Linked DNA regions of Homo sapiens: all the other regions are linked to region 2. The links come from fine-mapping of genetic effects on gene expression. A gene starts in region 2. Each other region holds a variant in brackets. All regions are shown on one strand. Distances are from middle to middle.

The links. PIP is the estimated chance that this variant, and not a neighbour inherited with it, causes the effect.
Region 1: its variant is fine-mapped to the expression of NIPA1 in whole blood (TOPMed, PIP above 0.99).
Region 3: its variant is fine-mapped to the expression of NIPA1 in tibial nerve (GTEx, PIP 0.99).

What each region holds. Positions count from the first base shown.
Region 1 is chr15:22,815,592-22,820,591 of GRCh38, reverse strand. It overlaps NIPA1 (NIPA magnesium transporter 1), which reads right to left. Exons shown (of 5, transcript NM_144599.5): 4 at 119-279. Among named protein-coding and RNA genes, the nearest start is that of NIPA2, 21 kb to the left of the region's middle. The variant G/A (reference allele first, on the strand shown) is at 2,931.
Region 2 is chr15:22,783,663-22,789,668 of GRCh38, reverse strand. NIPA1 (NIPA magnesium transporter 1) reads right to left here and starts at 3,025. Exons shown (of 5, transcript NM_144599.5): 1 at 2,835-3,025. The coding sequence starts at 3,012. RefSeq lists an enhancer at 1,978-2,087 and silencers at 2,438-2,567, 2,578-2,727, 2,798-3,157, 3,120-3,353.
Region 3 is chr15:22,806,017-22,811,016 of GRCh38, reverse strand. NIPA1 (NIPA magnesium transporter 1) reads right to left here. Exons shown (of 5, transcript NM_144599.5): 2 at 221-268. Among named protein-coding and RNA genes, the nearest start is that of NIPA1, 22 kb to the right of the region's middle. The variant C/T (reference allele first, on the strand shown) is at 2,060.

The DNA of each region.
Region 1 (5,000 bases), 31 kb before region 2:
TCAGGGTGGACACACGGTTCCTCTGCCCTGCCAGGAAGCATCCAATTTGAAGACGTGGTTAAAAAAGTTGGCACTCCTACTGCAAACTTTCTTGGCAGTGCTGCTAGAAAGGAATTACCTGGATTGGTCAGCTTTTCCTCCAGCTCAGCCTGAGTTGTCACACTCTCAGACTTTGGGGAGTGGATAATCAGCACGACGGAGCCTGCACAGCTTAGCAGGCACCCCAACTTGCCCAAGATGTTGAGCTTTTCCTTCAGGAGATAGGAAGCTAAAATGGACCTTTATTGAAAAAAGAGAAATCATTAAAGTTTAAACCAAACTACCTGACCTTTCTTCTAACAGCAGATATTTTATCTAGAAAAACCATTTTCTTTTTCTTCTTTTTTTCCCTTTAAGAGACCACCTCCCACTCTGTTGCCCAGGCTGGAGTGCAGTGGTGCAATCACAGCTCACCACAAGCTTGAACTCCTGGGCTCAAGTGATCCTCCTACCTCAGCCACCGGAGTAGCTGGGACTACAGGTGCATGCCACCACACCCAGCTAATTTTTTAAAAATTTTGTGTAGAGACTGGGTCTCACTAGATTGCCCAGGCAAGTCTCAAACTCCTGGGCTCAAACGATCCTCTTGCCTTGGACTCCCAAAGTGCTGGAATTATAGGTGTGAGCCACCATGCCTGGCCAGGATTTTCACACCAATTCCATGTATAACCACTACGTAGTTAATGATACACATAATTTACACCACTATATTACTATGTCAGCACATATAAAATACACCAGAGTATAAAAAGTTTTATGACTGACCAAAAATAAAAGTAATGCTTCCTTTCTTATAAAAGGAACCAATCAAAAATACTAATATCTATGCTACATGGAAAAGTAGGGTACAAAAACTGTCAAAATAATTATAAGTAATGCATGATAAAAACAAAATAAATTAAGTGAAAAATGCACAAACAAAAGAAAAAATAAAAATGCTAATAGTAATTGCAGTAGTAGAAGTAGTATGGGGTGGCTATTTCCTCTAATACTGAAAACTTTTAAAAACTGGTCACATTATTAATGCAAAAAAATGTATTCTTCAAAAACATCTATAATCTCCAGGCTTCTAACTTGTTTCTTCTCTTATTTCCCTGTGTAATTATCAGTATACAATCTGAATTGGAACACCTTGCCCTCAGTAAGTCACAGGACTGGTCATTGTCACTTTACTCATGTCTGTGCTGAAGACGATCAGAAAACAGGAACGTCCGGGAGGAGGGCATACCAGGCTCAGGTATGGACCGGATTACTTCCTTTAATACCTATTTTAAAGATAAGGAAACTTGAGCCTCAGAAAGGGTCAGCATTGAACCTAAGGCCACAAAGCTAACAAGAGATACAAGCACGGTCATGACACACCCACAGGTCCTAAACGGCCTACTTTTCCCTTGTACCACTTCACATCCTTGTCCCTAGACAGCCTGTTCTTAAGAAGCTCCCAACAGTGTCATTGGGGAAATAAGCAACATCACTGAAAGAAACAACAAAAGACATGAATACACAACTAGATGTTAAATAGAGAAGCTCCACCGAGTAGCTGCCTGGAAAAGGAGAAACCAGAAATGCAGGGGGCTCACAGGGCAAAAAGTGGGCCTGGAACTGGCCTCGGACAACGGGTGGACTATGCCAAGATGGGAAAGGGTTGCCATGCACGAAAGTGGACAGTATGAGCCACGAGGCCAAATCATCTCTTATTCCATTGTGGAATACCAGAGGACAGTGCCATTTTCATTCATTCATTCATTCATTTATTGAGACAGAGTCTCACTCTGTGACCCAGGCTGGAGTGCAGTGGAGCAGTCTCGACTCACTGCAACCTCTGCCTCCCGGGTTCAAGCAATTCTCCTGCCTCAGCCTCCCGAGTAGCTGGGATTACAGATGCCCGCCACCATGCCCTGGGGGATTTTTGTATTTTTAGTAAGGACGGGGTTTCACCATGTTGGCCAGGCTGGTCTCAAACTCCTGACCTCAAGTGATTCACCCGCCTCGCCTCCCAAAGTGCTGGGATTATAGGCATGAGCCACTGCGCCTGGCTGACAGTGCCATTTTTAAATTGGGTTATCTGACTTTTTACTGATGCACTGTAAGAGTTTCTGTTTCGTTTTCTTTTGTTGAGACAGAGTTTCCCTCTTGGTGCCCAGGCTGGAGTGCAATGGCGCAATCTCGGCTCAATGGAACCTCCACCTCCTGAGGTCAAACAATTCTCCTGCCTCAGCCTCCCAAGTAGCTGGGATTACAGGCATGTGCCACCACACCAGGCTAATTTTTTGTATTTAGTAGAGACGGAGTTTTACCATGTTGGCCAGGCTGGTCTCGAACTCCTGATCTCATGATCCACCCGCCTCGGCCTCCCAAAGTGCTGGGATTACAGGCGTGAGCCACCACGACCGGCAAGAGTTTTTATGTGTTCTAACTACAAGTCCCTTATCAGATATATACTTTGAAATTTTTTCTCCCACGAGTTTTCAATTCATTGATGGCATCCTTTTAAGCAGAAAGGTTTTTAATTTTGATGACATCGAATTTATCTATTTTCCTTCTGTTGTTTGTGCCCTTCGTGATCCACCTGCCTGGGCCTCCCAAAGTGTGGGAATTGAAGGCATAAGCCACTGTGCCTGGCCAGTTAAATTTATTCTTAAGTATTTCATCATTTTGGTGCTACTGCATATGAAATTGCTTTCTTAATTTCATTTTTGGTTTGCTCACTGCTACTGTATATAGATGCAATTTTTTTTTTTTTTCTTTGAGACACAGTCTCGCTCTGTCACTCAGGCTGAAGTGCAGTGGCACGATCTCAGCTCACTGCAAGCTCCGCCTCCCGGGTTCACGCCATTCTCCTGCCTCAGCCTCCCGAGTAGCTGGGACTACAGGTGCCTGCCACTACGCCC[G/A]GCTAATTTTTTGTATTTCTTTTAGTAGAGATGGGGTTTCACCGTGTTAGCCAGGATGGTCTTGATCTCCTGACCTCGTGATCCACCCACCTCAGCCTCCCAAAGTGCTGGGATTACAGGCATCAGCCACTGTGCCCAGCCGTAATTTTTTTTTTTTTTTTTGAGACGGAGTTTCGCTTTTGTTGCCCAGGCTGGAGTGCAATGGCCCGATCTCGGCTCACTGCAACCTCTGCCTACTGGGTTCAAGCGATTCTCCTGCCTCAGCCTCCCGAGTGGCTGGGATTACAGGCATGCGCCACCATGCTTGGCTAATTTTGTATTTTTATGAGAGACGGGGTTTCACCACGTTGGTCAGGCTGATCTCGAACTCCTTACCTCAGGTGATCCACCCACCTCAGCCTCCCAAAGTGCTGGGATTACAGGCCTGAGCCACTGCGCCTGGCAGATGTAATTTTTTTTTTTTTTTTTTTTTTTTGAGACAGAGTCTCACTCTGTTGCCTGGGCTGGAGTGCAGTGGCACAATCTCGGCTCACTGTAACCTCTACCTCCTGGGTTTAAGCAATTCTCCTGCCTCAGCCTCCTGAGTAGCTGGGACTACAGGCATGTGCCACCACACCTGGCTGATTTTTTTTTGTATTTTTGTAGAGATGGGGTTTCACCATGTTGGCCAGGCTGGTCTCTAACTCCTGACCTCAGGTGATCTTCCCGTCTCAGCCTCCCAGAGTGCTGGGATTACAGGAGTGAGCCACTACGCCCGGCCTCAGATGTAATTTTTATATAGTGATCTTGTGTCCATCGACCTTGCTAAACTTATTAGTTCTAATAATTTCTTAGTGATTCTTTAGGACTCTCTATATAAGATCAGGTCCTCTGCTGGGTGTGGTGGCTCATGCCTGTAATCCCAGCACTTTGGGAGGCCAAAGTGGGTGGATCACCTAAAGTCAGGAGTTCAAGACTAGCCTAGCCAACATGGCAAAACCCCATCTCTACTAAAAATACAAAAATTAGCTGGGCGTGGTGGTGGGCACCTGTAATCCAAGCTCCTCGGAGGCTGAGGCAGGAGAATCACTTGAACCCAGGAGGCCGAGGTTGCAGTGAGCCGACAGCACACCACTGCACTCCAGCCTGGGTGACAGAGTGAGACTCCATCTGAAAAAAAAAAAAAAAAAAAAAAAGGCTGGGTGCGGTGGCTCACACCTGTAATCCCAGCACTTTGGGAGGCCGAGGCAGGCAGACCACAAGGTCAGGAAATCAAGACCATCCTGGCTAACATGGTGAAACCCCGTCTCTACTAAAAATACAAAAATTAGCTGGGCATGGTGGTACGCGCCTGTAGTCCCAGCTACTCGGGAGGCTGAGGAAGGAGAATCACTTGAACCCGGGAGGTGGAGGTTGCAGTGAGCCAAGATCACACAACTGAACTCTAGCCTGGTGACAGAGTGAGACTCTGTCTCAAAAAAAAAAAAAAAAAAAAAAAAAAAAATCAGGTCTTCTGCCAATAAAGGCAATTAAATTCTTCCTTTCCTTTCCAATATGGATGCCTTTTAATTTGTTTGCTTACCTAATTGCTGTGGCTATAACATCCAGTACAATGATGAATAGATGAGGTGAAAGTAGGCAGCTTATTTTCTTCCTGATCTTAAGGGGAAAACATCAACCCTTGTGCCATTAAGTATGATGTTAGCTGGGGTACTTTGACAGAGGCCCTTTGTCAGTTTAGGAAGTTATTTTCTATGCCTAGCATATTGAGAGTTTTCGTCATGAAAGAGTATTGAATTGTACCACATAATTTTTGTGTGTCTTTTGAGATGATCACATGGTGATTATTCTATTGCTGTGGTATATTACACTAATTTATTTTCAATGCTAAATCTACTTTGCATTTCTGGGATAAATCCCACTTGTATAATCCTTTTTATATATTGCTGGATCCAACTGGTTAGTATTTTGTTCAAAATTTCTCCATCTATATTCATAAGAGAATTAGTTCATAGTTGTTTTTTTAATGAGCTTTATCTTTTCTTTGTTTTTTTGGGGGGCGGGGGAGGGACAGAGTTTTGCTCTGTCACC
Region 2 (6,006 bases):
TGCCACATGACTCGGAAATGTTCCCTAGTGTAAGACACCTCCATGCCTCCCTCGCCTTCTTCGGCGGGAGGTGCTCAACCCCCATACAAGTTTTCTTCTCCTTTTCTCTCCTACTTACTAACCAAATCCCAAAACAATTCCTCTCAGCCGTAAGTGACTCTGCCCCGCCGGCTGGTCTCTCAGCTCACCTTGATGGGTGGCTCACAGGGATGGAAAGGACCTTGGGTCCAGACCGGGAAGAACTGAGGTGCTAATGGCCTCCTGGACGGGAGGCTCTGAAGAGTCATAGAGCTAAAGCCTAACACCATGCAATGTCTGGGGCTTAAAATAAATAATGAAAATCACAAGTTCACTTTGATCAATTTAAAACCATAATATAGGCCGAGTGTTGGTGGCTCACGCCTGTAATCCCAGCATTTTGGGAGACTGAGGTGGGCAGATCACCTGAGGTCTGGAGTTCGGGACCATCCTGGCCAACATGATGAAACCCCATCTCCAGTAAAAGCACAAAATTAGCCAGATATGGTGGCACGCGCCTGTAATCCCAGCTCGGGAGGCTGTGGCAGGCGAATCGCTTGAACCCGGGAGGCAGAGGTTCAGTGAGCCAAGATCGCGCCATTGCACTCCAGCCTGGGCAACAAGAGCGAAACTCCGTCTCAAAAAAAAATCATAATAAAAAATAAATAAATGAATGAAAGCATAGTATATAGGTATAAGAAACAGCATTTATCTTTTTTTTTTTTTTTTTTAAGACAGAGCCTTGTTCTTCTCGCTCGGGCTGGAGTGCAATGGCACAATTTTGGCTCACTGCAACCTCCCCCTCCTGGGTTCAAGCAATTCTCCTGCCTCAGCCTCCCGAGTAGCTGGGATTACAGGTGTGAGCCACTGCACCCAGCTTATCATGTTTTTTTTAAAAGGCTACTCGCTTGTTTATTTTCCTATTCACCAATTCCTTTGAGCCACATGACCTGGGTTGAAATAACACAGTTTTCCTCAACTTTTTAGAAAACTAACTAAAGCTGGTATTCAGCTTTCCTTCGTTTTTCCCTAATGTCTTACATCTGGTGTTCACGTGTTCTTAGGCTCCTCCTGGTTGTGACGTGCTTTCAGATTCCATGACCTTCACAGAGGACTGGTCAGGTGTACTGCAAGATTTTTTTTTTTTTTTTTGAGATGGAGTCTTGCTCTGCCGCCCAGGCTGAGTGCAGTGGCGGATCCCGGCTCACTGCAACCTCTGTCTCCCGGGTTCAAGAGACTCTCCTGCCTCAGCCTCTCGAGTAGCTGGTACTACAGGTGCGTGCCACCACACCGGGATAATTTTTTGTATTTTTAGTAGAGATGGGGTTTCGTCGTGTTAGCCAGGATGGTCTAGATCTCCTGACCTTGTGACCCGCCCGCCTCGGCCTCCCAAAGTGCTGGGACTACAGGCACCAGCCACCGCGCCCGGCCGCAAGATGTTCTTCTACTCCGGTTTGTGTGGTGTTTTCCTCATGCTTACGCTAGGGCCGTGGATTGGGGAGGTGAGGTGCTTTCTCAGGCCATCCTATTTATAAGGTCACGCGCGTTGACCATCTCACCCAGTCCTGGGGCCTGTCACACGGACAGATGCTCCCTGAAGTGTGGCTGCGGTGTGTGTGTATCTGTGTGCCTTAGAGACAGACACATCTGCATCCTTGGAAAATCATACTTGGTTTTATTTAATTCTATTTAAATTGTATGGGAGACCACTATGCTTTCACTTTAAAGCTAAATTCCTTAAATTATCCATGATTTTATATTTTCATTCGAGACTGTCGGGCCCTTTATCTCTTCTCTGAAGCCAACGCCTGGCTCACTCAGAGAAAGTTTCACCTGCATTCCGCCATGTAAATTACGAGTTCACTTTCTCTCACAACCCAAGAGTCGGGGGCCACATCCTTCCCAGAGAGCTCTTAATATTCTTCTTCTAAGAGTATGGCCAAGAACCACAAGACTTTCTCAGTCCCTCTGGAAGCAATGGAAACGGACTGTTTCACAGCCTGCCATATCCTGCATTGGCAAACCGGTCCCGTCCGGGGCCTCCCAGCACAAACGACACTGACAGAGAGCTCTACCCCGCAGAGCACTACGGAGTGCGGTGCTGCGGCACATCCACCTGGGAAGTGGCCTTGGCCCGTCCAGGGCTTGGTTTTGGATCTGCCGCGCGTGTTCTCCAAACTGAAGATCACTTGTATTCATTTGGTGCAGGTCTAAGGCGCAGCGGGCTCCGTAAGAGCACCCCAGGAACGCACAGCCCTGAGAGCCCGCCCGGGTCTTCCTTTTGCACCAGCGAGGCCCCTGCGGGGGACTGGAAATCCCAGGTCTTGCTCTACCGAGCGTACCCTAGGAGCGGGCCGCGCATCGGCTGAAGCGGCGCTTCCAGGCGGGCGCTGGGCTCGAGCACCCCAGCACCGCGTCCGCAGGAGGCTCCCGGCCGCGGGTTGCGGGCCACGGCGAGGGCTGCCGGGCGGCGCGGGGCAGGTCTTGGACCGAGGGAAAAAGTCAGCCGGGGAAGCCCGCACACCAAAGCAAGCCGCTCCAGCCGCTGAGAACGGAGAAAAGCCGTGGCGTCGGCGAAGCGCCGGACGCTCAGGACGCACCTGTGATTCCTGGGCCGCTCCCGGGCCCGAGCGCCAGGACGCGGCGGCAGCCTGGGCACGCCGCGGGGAGCACCCGCCCGCGCAGCCTTCCCCCAACCTGGGCCCGGGCCCCGACCCCGTCCCCTGCCCCGACCCGGGCGCCCCCACCTGCGACCGCCTTCTCCGCCGCCCGCCTCCCCCACCCGCCCGCCGCCTGCCGCCTGCCGCCCGCCCTACCTCGCCGCTTGGCACGCACGATGCCCTTCTTCTGTAGCACGAACGTGGACCCGTTCACCAGGCTCGACACGACGGCCACGCCCAGGCCGAGCGACACGGCGGCGGGGCTCGGGCTACGCGCCCCCTCCCCGGCCGCCGCCGCCGCCGCCGCCGCCGCTGCCGCAGCTGCAGTCCCCATTCCGCCCGCGCCCGCCCTCCGAGCCTGCGCCTGCGCGCCGCGCCCCGCGGGGCGGGATGGGGGGTGACCGGGAGGCGCGGGCGGGGGAGGGGAGGGGGACGGGTGGGGGAGGAGCAGGAAGAGGGGCGGGGGCGGGACGGGGGTGCCAGGGACCGGCGCCTTAGGCTGCGGGGACAGCAGTGGCGCCGGACGCGGCGGCAGTGAGGGGCCGGTGAGGCGCTGGGTGGGGCGGGGGTTCCCGGATTTCGCAAATGGAAATGCAGGACTCCTGGTTAAGTTTCCAGCGCGGAGAAACACGCATACTTTCTGAGTGGTGTCCTCTGCAATATCCGGGCAGCGGAGCGCGGCAGGACGCACCGGCGGGCAGCGGTCCCCGAAGAGCCTCCAGCGGAGGCCGGCCCAACTCACCGGAGCGCGAAGCCCGGCGCGCCGCTGCAGAGATCGAAGGAGAGCCCTGGCGCTGGGCGTTTCTCTTCCGCCCTTGGCGCTAGAGTCAGCTACATGGGGCTCTGGGCTTGTGATCCCATAGTCTAGTTTCCTCGTTTTAATAAACTACAACAAGCCGGGCGCGGTGGCTCACGCCTGTAATCCCAGCACTTCGGGAGGCCGAGGCGGGTGGATCACAAGGTCAGGAGATCGAGACCATCCTGGCTAACACAGTGAAACCCCGTCTCTACTAAAAATACAAAAAATTAGCTGGGCGTCGTGGCGGAGGCCTGTAGTCCCAGCTACTCGGGAGGCTGAGCCAGGAGAAGGGTGTGAACCCGGGAGGCAGAGCTTGCAGTGAGCGGAGATCACACAACTGCACTCGAGCCTGGGCGACAGAGCGAGACTCCGTCTCAAAAAAAAAAAAAAAAAGAAACAACAACAAAATTACAAGCTTGAAAAATAGGAAAAAGTTATTTTATTTTTTTTGGAAAAAAATATTTTTTAAAGTGACTCAATTCCACAACCCTCACCTAATTATTAGTATTTTAGGTGTTTTCCCATAATGTATACATACTTTTACATGTTTCCAATTACAATATACGAAATTTCCTTTTTATTTAATATATATCAGTTTCTGTATCGGTACATAAATATGATTATTCTAATGACAGTATAATAATTTGTCTAACCATTCAGCCATTGTTGGGTGTTAGGTAGCTACCAGGTTGGTTTGTTTTTTTGAGACAGAGTCTCGCTCTGTCGCCCAGGCTGGAGTGCAATGGCGCGATCTCGGCTCACTGCAACCTTCCGCCTCCCGGATTCAAGCGATTCTCGGCCTCAGCCTCCGAGTATCTAGAATTACAGGCGTCCGCCACCACGCCCGGGTTAATTTTTGTATTTTGAGTAGAGACGCGGTTTCACCATCTTGGCAAGGCTGGTCTTGAACTCCTGACCTCAGGTGATCCGTCCGCTCTACCTCCCAAAGTGCTGGGATTACAGGCGTGAACCACCGCGCCTGGCCGGTTGCTGCCAGGTTTTGTTGTCTATAAACGATGCTACAAGCTGGGCACAGTGGCTCACACCTATAATCCCAGCACTTTGGGGACCGAGGTGGGAGGCTCGCTTGAGCTCAGACGTTCAAGACCAGCCTGGGCAACGTAGCGAGACCCGTCTCTACCAAAAAAAGAAAAAAATTAATTAGCGGGGCGTGGTGGCTTTTACCTCCAACCCCAGATACTCTGGAGGCAGAGGTGGGAGGATGGCTTGAGGTGGAGGTTGCAGTGAGCTGTTATTGCACCACTGCACTCCAGCCTGGGCAACAGAGCAAGATTGTCTCAAAAACAAACGAAAAGTATAAACCTTTTGGCAGCTTTGCATACAGCATTATTATTTTGTGAAGAAATATAAAATAGGGCCGGGGAGGTGGCTCATGACTGTAATCCCAGCACTTTGGGAGGCGGAGGCGGACGGATCCGGAGGTCAGGTGGATGGATCAGGAGGTCAAGAGATCGAGACCATCCTAGCTAACACGATGAAACCCGGTCTCTACTAAAAATACAAAAAATTAGCCGGGCATGGTGGAGGGCGCCTGTAGTCCCAGCTACTCAGGAGGCTGAGGCAGGAGAATGGCGTGAACCCGGGAGGCGGAGCTTGCAGTGAGCCGAGATGGCACCACTGCACTCCAGCCTGGGCGACGGAGTGAGACTCCGTCTCAAAAAAAAAAAGAAAAAAAAAAGAACTCCACCCCAGACATTTTTCCATGTGAGTACATAGGTTAAATGACAGGCATATTTTATCTGATGGGGAAACACATATGGGATTTTAATTAAAAACATAAAACTATATTTTGCTTGAATTTAACAAAAGAAAAACTGAAATGAAACTACAGTAACTACTGAATGACAAACATTATTTTGCCATGAGATATTACTTCCTAAAAGATACACCTAAAATTAAAGTTAGTAGGCCAGGTACAGTGGCTCATGCCTATAATCCCAGTACTTTGGGAGGCCAAGGCCAGCAGATCACTTGAGCCCAGGAGTTTGAGATCAGCCTGGGCAACATGATGAAACCCCATCTCTGCAAAAAAATACAAAAATTAGCCAGGCATGGTGACATGTGCTTGTAGTCCCAGCTACTCAGGAGGCTATGGGAGGATCACTTGACCCCAGAAGTTGAGGCTACAGTGAGCCATGATCACGCCACTGCACTCCAGCCTGGGCAACAGAAGTGAGACCCTGTCTCAAAAAAAAAAAAAAAAAAGTGAGAAACACTAAGAGGGTGGGAGTTACGTTTATTTTAACTCTGGGTTTCAATTTTGGGCTATCAATTGATTCCTTGCAAGGAGAAATGAGGAAATCAGTTCACTTTTCAGCTCCCTAAAAAATTTTTTTTTCGTCTTATGTTTTGAGATGGAGTCTTGCTCTGTCACCCAGGCTGGAGTGCAGTGGCGTGATCTTGGCTCACTGCAACCTACGCTTCATGGGTTCAACCAATTCTCTGCTTCAGCCTCCCAAGTAGCTGGGATTACAGACGCCTGCCACCACGCCTGGCGAATTTTTTTGT
Region 3 (5,000 bases), 22 kb before region 2:
CCTTCTGCACTCTCATCCTGGGAGGAAGGGGAGCAGGGAGAGTGCCCTGGGGAGGCAGGGACATCCGAACTGAAAGGCACGCTTAGGGCCTGGGGAGAGGCCACGCGACACCCTCTTCCAAAGAACAGAGCCACCCTAGCCCAGCCACTCCAGCCCTGCCCAGACCAGTGATGGATTCTAAGAAAGGAAAAGACCAGACTTCGCCACACAGGCTACTTACTTGCGATTGTGCCAGCCCACCACACAATGTCTGTTAAATAGGAAGTACCTATAAAAAATGAGATAAAAAATGTCAGAAAAGTGGGTTTACCAGCTACGTATATCAGGAAGAGGTTTACAAGCGAGAAACTTTTGACATGAAAACTAAAATTGAAAAGAATGAATGTCATACTGTTTATTCACCCTAAAGAGAATCTTTCATCTATAAATGGCAGCATTAGAGACCACCGAAAGTGGCAAAGTCAAGATATTTTTTGCAACCAACACAGGCTGACCCAAATAAGGAAATGAGATCTTTATACATCAGTTTTCTTTCACCCAACAAGCTACCACAAAGATATTCCTTTGATGGAGTTTTATTTTTATCTCAAAAGGGTTTGAGTCTTTAAAGTCCAACTCTCTCATGCATTTACTGTAGTCCATTTATATAAGAATTTTATTATCATAGGGTTTGACTTCCTGCTTAAACAAGTCACTCAATTTTCATTATTTATAACTCTTCTGATACGACTCTTCTTTCAGCCATGCGGGAACCACATCCTTACACTCACCTGATGCTCTGACATTTGACCTGAGACTTGCCGGCATCCTCTCAGGTTACCCCACCCATCCCACGCAGGGCAGGCGGAGCCCCAGCACCTTCCTCCCTCCCCCTGCCTCTTGACAGGTGTGTATGGTGAGAGGTCTCCCAACCTTTGAGACAGGTTTGTCCTTCAGATATGGCAAAATGCTCCTAAGCACTTTTTTTTTTGAGGCAGAGTTTCACTCTTGTTGCCCAGGCTGGAGTGCAATGGCGCGATGTCGGCTCACCGCAACCTCCGCCTCCTCCCAGGTTCAAGCGATTCTCCTGCCTCACCCTCCCTAGTAGCTGGGATTACAGGCATGTGCCACCATGCCCAGCTAATTTTGTATTTTTTTTTAGTAGAGACGAGGTTTCTCCACGTTGGTCAGGCTGATCTTGAACTCCCGATCTCAGGTGATCCGCCCACCTCGGCCTCCCAAAATGCTGGGATTACAGGTGTGAGCCACCGCGCCTGGCCTTTTTTTTTTTTTCAGACAGAGTCTCACTCTGTCACCCAGGCTGGAATGCACTGGTGCGATGTTGACTCACTGAAACCTCCACTTTCCGGGTTCAAACAATTCTCCCGTCTCAGCCTCCCGAGTAGCTGAGACTACAGGAGCATGCCACCACACCTGGCTAATTTTTGAATTTTTAGTAGAGACGGGGTTTCACCAAATTGGTCAGGCTGGTCTCGAACTCCTGACCTCAGGTGATCCGCCTGCCTCAGACTCCCAAACTGCTGGATTACAGGTGTGCAGCACGCCTGGCCTGCTAAGCATTTTTTGAGGAGATTTTTTGTTGTTAACCACAGATTACAGTAATGAATTCTTTTTTCCTTTTCCTTTTTTTGAGATGGAGTATCACTCTGTCGCTGAGGCTGGAGTGCAGTGGCACGATCTCAGCTGACTACAACCTCTGCCTCCTGGGTTCAAGCAATTCTCATGCTTCAGCCTCCCAAGTAGCTGGGATTACAGGCGTGCACCACCACGTGCGGCTAATTTTTGTATTTTTAGTAGAGAGGGGGTTTTGCTATATTGGCCAGGCTGGTCTTCAATTCCTGGCTCCAAGTGATCCACCCACCTCAGCCTCCCAAAGTGCTGTGATTACAGGAGTGAATCACCGTGCCCAGCCACAGTAACTAATTCTAATTGTTTTTATTCTCAGTAGGAAAACCACAATTTGGTATAAGACACATAGCCTGCTAGCCTGCTTAATGGAGCAGCAGAGCTACAAGTATTAGAAAAAGTACTTACAAAATGAAATGGGGGCTGGGCCCGG[C/T]GGCTCACACCTGTAATGCCAGCATTTTGGAAGCCTGAGGCAGGATGATCACTTGAGCCTAGGAGTTCAAGGTCAGCCTGGGCAACATAGCAAGACTCTATCTCTACAAAAAATTTAAAAATTAGCTGGGTGTGGTGGTGCATGCCTGTGGTCCCAGCTATTCAGGAGGCTGAGACAGAAGAATCGCTTGAGCCCAGGAGGATGAGGCTGCAGTTAGCCATGATCATGCCACTTCATTCCAGCCTGGGTGATAGAGTGAGACACTGTCTCAAAAAAAAGAATATTGCTATTTGATCACATCACAGTAAAAACTGATTTAGGCAAGAATCATTAACGGATACTAAAACAAGCGAATGAAAATTTACTGAGTCACCTCCATGGGTTTTTCTTATTAATTATGAACAGAAAAAGTTATCTTTATAGATAAGCCTGATGGACACTGGCTTAGCCAAGTGGTCAAAGTCCCCAGCATCAGTTGTGCCACCTGCCTGCTGTGGCTGTCTCCCAGCCCTGAGCCACGCCCTACCTCTGCTGCCAGGCTCCACTGGAGAAGACAGCCTGGCACCACTGGGGCTCCTGTCTGGTGTCCCTCTCAGTGTATCTAATACAAACAGGACCCAGGGTGTCCTATGAAGCAGAAAGTTTAGCGAAGCTTAAGAATGTCCCATGGTGGGCACTGTAGGAGAGTCAGCTATTAATACAGAATCAATGTTAGATTTCTAAATGTGCTAATCAAAGTGGCTATCCCAAAATGCATGCCGAATACTTGAGTGAAAGGTCATCAGGTCCAGAATACTAGTGTGAAAAGTCTGTGGACCAGTTTCCCAACAAAACCACCATAACTAATAAATAAAGTACTTAACAAAGTGGGCCGGGTGCAGTGGCTCATGCCTGTAATCCCAGCACTTTGCGAGGCCGAAGTTGGTGGATCACAAGGTCAGGAGACCGAGACCATCCCGGCTAACACAGTGAAACCCCGTCTCTACTAAAAAAAATACAAAAAAAAATTAGCTGGGCATGGTGGTGGGCGCCTGTAGTCCCAGCTATTTGGGAGGCTGAGGCAGGAAAATGGCATGAACCTGGGAGGCAGAGCTTGCAGTAAGCCGAGATTGTGCCACTGCACTCCAGCCTGGGCAACAGAGAGAGACTCCATCACACACACACACACACACACAAGTGAATTTAAACTCTGTGGAAATTATCCTAAGGGCATACAGAAAATATCTCCTTTTTCATTCCTGATTTTAGTAATTTGATTCTTCTTTTTTGCTTGGTCAGTCTAGCTAAAGGTTTGTCAATTTCATTGTTCTTTTCAAAGAACCAACTTTTGATTTTGTTTTTATTGGGTTTTTAGATTTTTTTTTTCTTTTTGAGACAGGGTCTCACTCTGTTGCCCAGGCTGGGGTGTAGTGGCATGGTCTCTCAGTTCACTGCAACCTCCATCTCCCAGGTTCAAGTGATTCTCCTGCCTCAGCCTCCCAAGTAGCTGGGATTACAGGCGTGGGCCACCACATCCAGCTGTCCTTTTATTGTAATGAACATGGTTTGGTCAGGACGTTTTGTGAAGTCATGGGATTCCTGCTACAGCAGCTGGACTGTGTGACCCTCCTACAGTGAAAGCTGGTCAAGGATGACAGTGACCAGTGCAATGAGGCCCATAGGCACCCCCCTTTCACTGCTATGGTTATCCCAACATTGATCATCACATAGTATATGTTTTTGGCAGTTTATAAAATGTCAAAAGTCACAAAATGAGGAGGAACCTGGAATACCAGGTACACAGGAATGGCAAAGTGAACAAAATGGTTTTTGTTCTTTTCCCAAAGGGTCCAGTTCAGTTCCAAGCATTTCAGGCCCTGCAACTTGTACTCTCCATCAAGAGCCTGGATTTGCACAAATCAAAAGGTGTATAGGTCACCCTCACCTTTTAAACCAGTATTAGGCAAAATTTTTCTGCATCCACAGACATTAAGCAAGTCAGGTTTTTCTCCATCCAGGTACCTGTCCCATACCCCTACCCATAAACAAAAGTGAAGCTCCTGCACATGGTCCCTGAGAGCCTCGGTCCAGGGGTGTCCCCTGTTCTGCCCTGCAGGAAGTGCATGGCTGTGTGCCCAGCTTCCTCACTGAGTTGGCTGCTCCATTTTCCCTCCTCCTTCTTTTGCCAGGAGCTCCTAGGAGTCTGCATTCCATATTAGCCCTTGGCCCGTCATACAGATATCTGTGAGGATATCTAAAACAACTGGGTTTCTTCACAGTTTCACCCTAAGCATTGCTGCCCCTAAGCACTGTTGTTCCGAAAGCTCATTAGCCAGCACTCTCAGTAGGTATCTATGCCCAAGCTTCTCCTCTTCCCAGTTGATGACGGTCCTCTATTAATCTGCAGGTCCTCCGGCCTCAGCAACAACAGGGAGCTGCAGCACTGAAGGATGCAGAGGATGCTGTTTGTCTTGCCACACTCACGTCTCCTCCCCCACTCCTAGGTGTGGGCTGCAGAGGATATGATCGCTAAGTTCCATTGGTTTTCCTCTCATTGGAAACCCTGGGTGCTGAGAGTTGCATAGCTGTTTATAACAGCTAAACTATAAAACAAAGAAGTGTTTGTGCAAACACAAAAGAGCCTTGCCAGGATGACAGTATCAACTGACAGTGATGCTGTCCAACCAGGGGCATGTGGCTTTAGACCTTCCATTTAGTTATAAATGTGTCGGAAATGTCCTTAAAATACAGCTTTAGGCCGGGCGCGGTGGCTCACGCCTGTAATCCCGGCACTTTGGGAGGCCGAGGCGGGCGGATCACAAGGTCAGGAGATCAAGACCATCCTGGCTAACACGGTGAAACCCCGTCTCTGCTAAAAATACAAAAAATTAGCTGGGCGTGGTGGCGGGCGCCTGTAGTCCCAGCTATTCGGGAGGCTGAGGCAGGAGAATGGTGTGAACCC